Homo sapiens: one gene and its partner. The protein of the gene in region 1 purifies or fractionates together with the protein of each later gene. This does not show direct contact. Each region holds a gene or a part of one and is shown on either strand. Other genes may lie near its edges.

The links.
Region 2: the proteins of NR1D1 (region 1) and SPSB4 purify together in Homo sapiens (affinity purification with western blotting; 2 studies listed by BioGRID and IntAct, with this or other methods). This does not show direct contact.

The regions. Positions count from the first base shown.
Region 1 is NC_000017.11:40,094,739-40,097,704, reverse strand, and holds part of NR1D1 (nuclear receptor subfamily 1 group D member 1), read left to right. Parts: intron 1-301; coding exon 302-640; intron 641-925; coding exon 926-1,014; intron 1,015-1,117; coding exon 1,118-1,262; intron 1,263-1,617; coding exon 1,618-2,261; intron 2,262-2,584; coding exon 2,585-2,770; intron 2,771-2,966. UniProt on the Homo sapiens protein: Transcriptional repressor which coordinates circadian rhythm and metabolic pathways in a heme-dependent manner.
Region 2 is NC_000003.12:141,145,301-141,149,383, forward strand, and holds the end of SPSB4 (SPRY domain-containing SOCS box protein 4), read left to right. Parts: intron 1-1,841; coding exon 1,842-1,969; 3' UTR 1,970-3,311; downstream 3,312-4,083. UniProt on the Homo sapiens protein: Substrate recognition component of a SCF-like ECS (Elongin BC-CUL2/5-SOCS-box protein) E3 ubiquitin-protein ligase complex which mediates the ubiquitination and subsequent proteasomal degradation of target proteins.

The DNA of each region.
Region 1 (2,966 bases):
GTCGATATTCCCAAGGAAGGCAACTAAGGAAGGGGGGCACATATGCGAGATGCCACAGGGGTCATGCCTCATACTGAAAGCAGAAGCTGAAGGTGGCCTGCAAAGGGTCGTAGGTGTTGCTTGGCCATGCCATGTCTACTGTGTGTTGGGGAATTGCTTATTAACTCCAAGATTAGGGGCTCCACATGGTGAACTGAGTGGCCAGCAATGTTTTGGGCAGACAGGTGGGGATGAGCACAGTGGCACCCTAGGTCCGGAGACATGGCGGCTGACACCCCCTTTCCTTTTGTTCTCTCTCCAGGTGGCGTCATCACCTACATTGGCTCCAGTGGCTCCTCCCCAAGCCGCACCAGCCCTGAATCCCTCTATAGTGACAACTCCAATGGCAGCTTCCAGTCCCTGACCCAAGGCTGTCCCACCTACTTCCCACCATCCCCCACTGGCTCCCTCACCCAAGACCCGGCTCGCTCCTTTGGGAGCATTCCACCCAGCCTGAGTGATGACGGCTCCCCTTCTTCCTCATCTTCCTCGTCGTCATCCTCCTCCTCCTTCTATAATGGGAGCCCCCCTGGGAGTCTACAAGTGGCCATGGAGGACAGCAGCCGAGTGTCCCCCAGCAAGAGCACCAGCAACATCACCAGTGAGTACCTTTCCAGCTGATTCGGGGGAAGGGAAGCAGGCCAGGGCCAGATTGGGAATGGGTTTTTACGTGACACCAGTCTTGCCAGGACCTATTCTGGCTTCAGGGATTTCTCCTAGAGTGGCACCAGCCCCTCTTCAGCCCAGTTTTGTCACTCCAGTGCCCCTCAACACTGGAGTTCCTCCTTAGCTTTTCCCTCCCTGGATCTCCGGCCCAGAAAGCCTCCACACCTGTGGCCACTCAGCCTGGCCTCTCCTGCTCACCTGCTGCCCGTCTCTTCCACAGAGCTGAATGGCATGGTGTTACTGTGTAAAGTGTGTGGGGACGTTGCCTCGGGCTTCCACTACGGTGTGCACGCCTGCGAGGGCTGCAAGGTGAGGCGGACTGGGGGTAAGGGCAGGGGCAGGTGGCCCCCTCCCCCTGGACACAGAGGCCCAGCCATGATGGAGGTGGTCACTAACCACCCCTGCCCTCCAGGGCTTTTTCCGTCGGAGCATCCAGCAGAACATCCAGTACAAAAGGTGTCTGAAGAATGAGAATTGCTCCATCGTCCGCATCAATCGCAACCGCTGCCAGCAATGTCGCTTCAAGAAGTGTCTCTCTGTGGGCATGTCTCGAGACGGTGAGGCAGCATCCCCACATCCTCCCCCCTTCTTCCGCCCAAAGTTTCTGAATTAATCCTTCCCTTTAAAAAAGTCACAAATGGAGACACATCATACTGTGAATCACATGTGCCAGGGGATGTCCATCCTTCATTTGCTTGGGTCAACATATACTTCTATCCCATTGGTCCCTCGGGTCACCTCCTACCAGCAATCCCTCCTAGGGAAACCCCCTTGATGGGTGGGGACTTGCTGGTTTTAGTTTTGATGTGAAACCCCAAGCCTTCAGGGCCTTGCCCTTTCAGGAGGAAGGAAGGAAGAGAAGCACGTGAGCATGGTTGAGAACTTCCTGATGCTGTTCTCATCCTGTTGCAGCTGTGCGTTTTGGGCGCATCCCCAAACGAGAGAAGCAGCGGATGCTTGCTGAGATGCAGAGTGCCATGAACCTGGCCAACAACCAGTTGAGCAGCCAGTGCCCGCTGGAGACTTCACCCACCCAGCACCCCACCCCAGGCCCCATGGGCCCCTCGCCACCCCCTGCTCCGGTCCCCTCACCCCTGGTGGGCTTCTCCCAGTTTCCACAACAGCTGACGCCTCCCAGATCCCCAAGCCCTGAGCCCACAGTGGAGGATGTGATATCCCAGGTGGCCCGGGCCCATCGAGAGATCTTCACCTACGCCCATGACAAGCTGGGCAGCTCACCTGGCAACTTCAATGCCAACCATGCATCAGGTAGCCCTCCAGCCACCACCCCACATCGCTGGGAAAATCAGGGCTGCCCACCTGCCCCCAATGACAACAACACCTTGGCTGCCCAGCGTCATAACGAGGCCCTAAATGGTCTGCGCCAGGCTCCCTCCTCCTACCCTCCCACCTGGCCTCCTGGCCCTGCACACCACAGCTGCCACCAGTCCAACAGCAACGGGCACCGTCTATGCCCCACCCACGTGTATGCAGCCCCAGAAGGCAAGGCACCTGCCAACAGTCCCCGGCAGGGCAACTCAAAGAATGTTCTGCTGGTAAGGGCATGGGGGCGGGCGAGTGCGTTAAGAAGATTGGGGGGGCCTGGCAGAATGGACTTAGTGTAGGGCAGCTGGGGGTTCCTGGAGGCTGAGTGTGGGGATAGCATCTTCCCAGGAGAAAATGTCTTGCCTTGCAGTCTGGACTCTGCCTGGGAATCCCTAATCTCCACCTGGCACCTAATTGCTACTTTATCTGAAAGACCCATCCTTCAGGGCCACAGCCCCTAGCCCAGGCAGAATCTGGGGTCCAGCTCTGCTCGGGGCGTCCATCTGACCCAGCCTGGCTGACACTCCCCTCCTTCAATCTTTTCCTCCCCCAGGCATGTCCTATGAACATGTACCCGCATGGACGCAGTGGGCGAACGGTGCAGGAGATCTGGGAGGATTTCTCCATGAGCTTCACGCCCGCTGTGCGGGAGGTGGTAGAGTTTGCCAAACACATCCCGGGCTTCCGTGACCTTTCTCAGCATGACCAAGTCACCCTGCTTAAGGCTGGCACCTTTGAGGTGAGTGACCGTTTATGCTTCTGGTTTTTGTTTTTTTTGAGACAGAGTTTCGCTTGTCGCCCAGGCTGGAGTGCAATGGTGCGATCTCCACTCACTGCAACCTCCACCTCCTGGGTTCAAGCAATTCTCCTACCTCAGCCTTCCAAGTAGCTGGGATTACAGGTTCCCGCCACCACGCTTGGCTAATTTTTATATT
Region 2 (4,083 bases), on another chromosome or scaffold:
GGGATCTGGCCTCAAGTGAAGGAGAGCTGGATGTACTCTTGTGCACAGCTTCCAAAGCATGCTCCCCAAGCCCCACTTTAATTTTAATGGCTCCCCTTATTAACTCTGCAGCTCAGGTAAATAAAAATTCCTATAAAACATATTCTCGACTCTTGACTACATTCCCATGTAAAAAGTACTTCACTGCAGGTTGTGATAAAAAAATGTTTGAAAGCTGCAGGCCTCGGGTGGATCTGTAGAGGGCCTTTCTCTGTGGTACTATTCCTATCACAACTCTTGTGTTAGTATTTACCACTCAACAGTTTTGTTGTATCTTAGTACATTATAGGATGTTTATGAAATATCATTTATTCTATTACCAAAAAAGTATTAAGATGCAGGTTCAGGCTTCCAGCATACTCCTGGAGGACTGGGGAAACCAGGCCTGTACAAACCATACCAGATGCCATGTGACCACCATCATCATCTTCCTTCCAGCTGATGCTAACTGATCAGCACTGTTCCTCTCCCCACAAACCTCCAGGCTGTCCTGTTTTATTCCTCCTTTGCCTTTGCCTGTTCTCTCTGCCTAGGATACCCTCCCCACCCTTATGTGCCTTTAACCCTCCTATTCACTCTTCAAAACCCCATTATGTGTCCTCTCTGTGAAGCTTTCAAACAGCTCTTCTATATAAGAAATTCCCAGTTTCTGTACCTGTATATTTAAGAATTATTGCATATATTACACTCTATTAAAATGATTCACCTATTTAAAATCCCAGATCATGAGCCTCCACCACCCCCCTACCTGCCCCCACCCTCTTCCAGAGCTGCCTCTGGTGCTAGCTTAGTTATCCCTGTATCCCCAGGGCTAATCAAAGGGCCTGGACCAGAATAAGAGCTTAATAAGGGGGTCTGCAATAAACCTAGTTAAAGTTGGTTTAACTGGTCCTATGTCCAGTGGTTCCATTATTTATGGATTTTAACTTACAAATTTTTCCAGAACTAGGTGCTGGAAGAAAATGTAACCCGCTGCTGACCATCAAGGAAAGCTATAGGGGAAGTTTCAGGGTTCACAGGCATTTCAGACAGCCTCTCAGAATCTAACCTGTTTGTAGAGGAAACCCCTCTGCAGATCCACCCAAGGCCACCAGCTTTTAAACATTTTCCATCATGACCTGAAGTGAGAAGTCCTTTTCACATTAAGACACACCAGGCCGGGCGCGGTGGCTCACGCCTGTAATCCCAGCACTTTGGGAGGCCGAGAAGGGCGATCACGAGGTCAGGAGATCGAGACCATCCTGGCTAACACAGTGAAAGCCCGTCTCTACTAAAAATACAAAAAATTAGCCGGGCTGGTGGCGGGTGCCTGTAGTCCCAGCTACTAGGGAGGCTGAGGCAGGAGAATGGCGTGAACCCAGGAGGCGGAGCTTGCAGTGAGCCCAGATTGTGCCACTGCACTCCAGCCTGGGCGACAGAGCAAGACTCCATCTAAAAAAAAAAAAAAAAGACACGCTGAACACCTACATCAGAGACCAGAGACAAGGCTTTCATGAAACAATATTTATCCTTGCTATGGGTATTGCTCCCATTTTCTCTTTTTTTAAAAAAAATTATGGCTGGTCACCACCCATTGAATTGATTTTGTGACTCTTTAGTCTCACTGGTTGCATTCCACAGTCTAATGAACACTCCTCTAGGCCTTCAGCTTATGTAACCAGAGAAATCTTCTCCAAGGAGAAGCCATTGACCCTGAAGGCCAGCTCAGAGGAGCAGGCAGGAGGCGGTATGCAGTGGGGGCTGGGATGAGAAGGTGCCAGGATGGCACAGGGCACACTCTAACTGCTTCCCTCTCATTGCAGCCGAGCCCCTGCCACTGATGGACCTGTGCCGGAGATCCATCCGCTCGGCCCTGGGCCGCCAGCGCCTGCAGGACATCAGCTCCCTGCCCCTGCCTCAGTCTCTCAAAAACTATCTGCAGTACCAGTGAGCCAAGCCTGATGGGCAGCACAGACACAGACACACACCGCAGGGCCCGACCCTCCTGTCATTCACAGTCCCATGGCACATAGGGGAAAGGATCTACCCTTCTCCTGGCTCCCCAGGACACTCAGTTCTTTCAAAGACCAGGATGTGGTACCAACTTTGGAAACGAAAGGTCTCTTGCCAACAGTATCTACTGCCCTCGAGGCAGCCCTCCCAAGTCAGACACCTCCTTCGGAGCCACAGAGAGCCTGGAGTCTGCACCTCCTGGAAATCCTGCCACCAACCAGGACACAGCAGCCACCGTATTGATCAGAGAGCCTGTTTCCTTATTCAAGAGAATGAATAAAACATTTAGGCAGGAGACTTTCTATTGTGTGCCCCGTTGCAGACAGGGCCAGGGAGAAATTAGCCAGTGCAGGGGGAAAATTGCCTCTGAATAATGAATGATGAAAGCCTGACGCCGTGCCCCTCCTGGCCCATACGCCTTGCCAGGGCGGCAGGATTGTCACACCGTTTTAGGACTCTGTGCCACTTTGAGAGACTGTTCCCAGGAGGCCCAACCGCAGACCTGGCAAGTGGACAGTGCAGTGTGGAGACACCTTCCGGCTTACCTCTTTGAACGTTGTTTACCTACCCCTTTCCACGTGCTCCCCTTCCCAGCCACTGACTCACAGTTCTCTGGATGCCCAGACACCTCTCTTCAGGGAAGATGAGTCTGACTGGTTTGCCCCAGGGAAGAGCATATCCTTACCATTATTTTAAGTAGCATTTGCATTTTAAAAGAGGAATGCGGAGAGGACAGTACTTAGTCCAAAGGTGCTAACGGGGGAACTGGGGGCATTGTGACACCCAAGTCTGATGTGTCCTGGGTTGGGGGGCCTTCCTGGAGTGTCAGGGTCTCTGGGCAACGTCCATTCAGGGTGCGGCATGGCTGTCACAAAGCTTTATTTGAGCAAATTATTTTTTCACTTTAGGAGACTTCTACAAGTTTGTTTCCTGTTTCAAATGTGTGTGTGATGTGCTGTTTATTTATCAGCTTGAGGTCCATGGGGGCAGCCTTGTGACTGGAAGGGTGGATATGGGAGACACATTCTCTACCTGCTCCGAGCCTGGTCCTCTCGCAGGAATGCTGCTGCTGCCTCCGCCGCCACTGCTGCTGCCACCTCTTATATGTTTCAGACACTCTCTGCCCAGACTCATTTTTAACTGGAAATCATCACAGCAGTGGGATATCAGAGCCCCAGACAGCACTGCCTCTTCCTCCCCACCCCACTGCCCCCACCTTAATGTGAATTTGACTGATGAATGAAGAGCGTTTCTAATAAAGTTTGTCATTCAGTCCTTCAGCTGCGTATTAAATGTTGTTTGGGGAGGGACCCAGAGAGCTTCTTCCATCAACCTGCCTGGTCCGTCAGACTGATAGAAGCCAGGCACGTGAATCCCTCTTTAGACATTTCTTGTCTCTTCTGACTTGTGGTCCTTGCTTGAGCCCAAACTCCAGCTATTTTGCAAAGGCCTGCCCTGGACAAGAGAATGTGCCTGTGTCCTGGGTACATGCAAAGCTGACCTTATGGTGGAGAAACAACTCAGCCTCCTGTTGCCAGAGCCAAGGGGTAGCCCTGCAAAGGGGCTTAGGGTCAGGCAGGGCAAACCCTATGGAACACCAGTTTCCAAGTGGACTGGAGGTGGGGCTGGATGTGACTGTAGTGAATGCATGTTGTCACCAAGGAGCAGTGCAAATTGTTGAAGCATGAGTGTAAAGAAAGGCCAGGCTCAGAGCTGATAGCAGTTCAGGAGTTAGAGTCAGGATAGGGTCTGGGTAAGGACTGGAATAGCATTCATTCAGCAGTACCAGCCAACAGCATGCGCTGTGCCAATTTCCAGGGACCCAGCGCCCAGGCTGATATATCTCATCTCCAGAGATGTGTAGTACAGCATAATAAAGTGAGAAGGAGCTCATGAAGAGGGGTGGATGAGAATAGAATATGAAGGGAAGGCTTCCTGGAGGAAGAGGCACTCTCCAGACTTGTTATTTTAAGGGCAGACAAGCTTCCTGAGGACCACCAAGAGACCAAACTTGCAGCACCTGCCCCCAGGGTAATGTTTCCAGCTCTGACC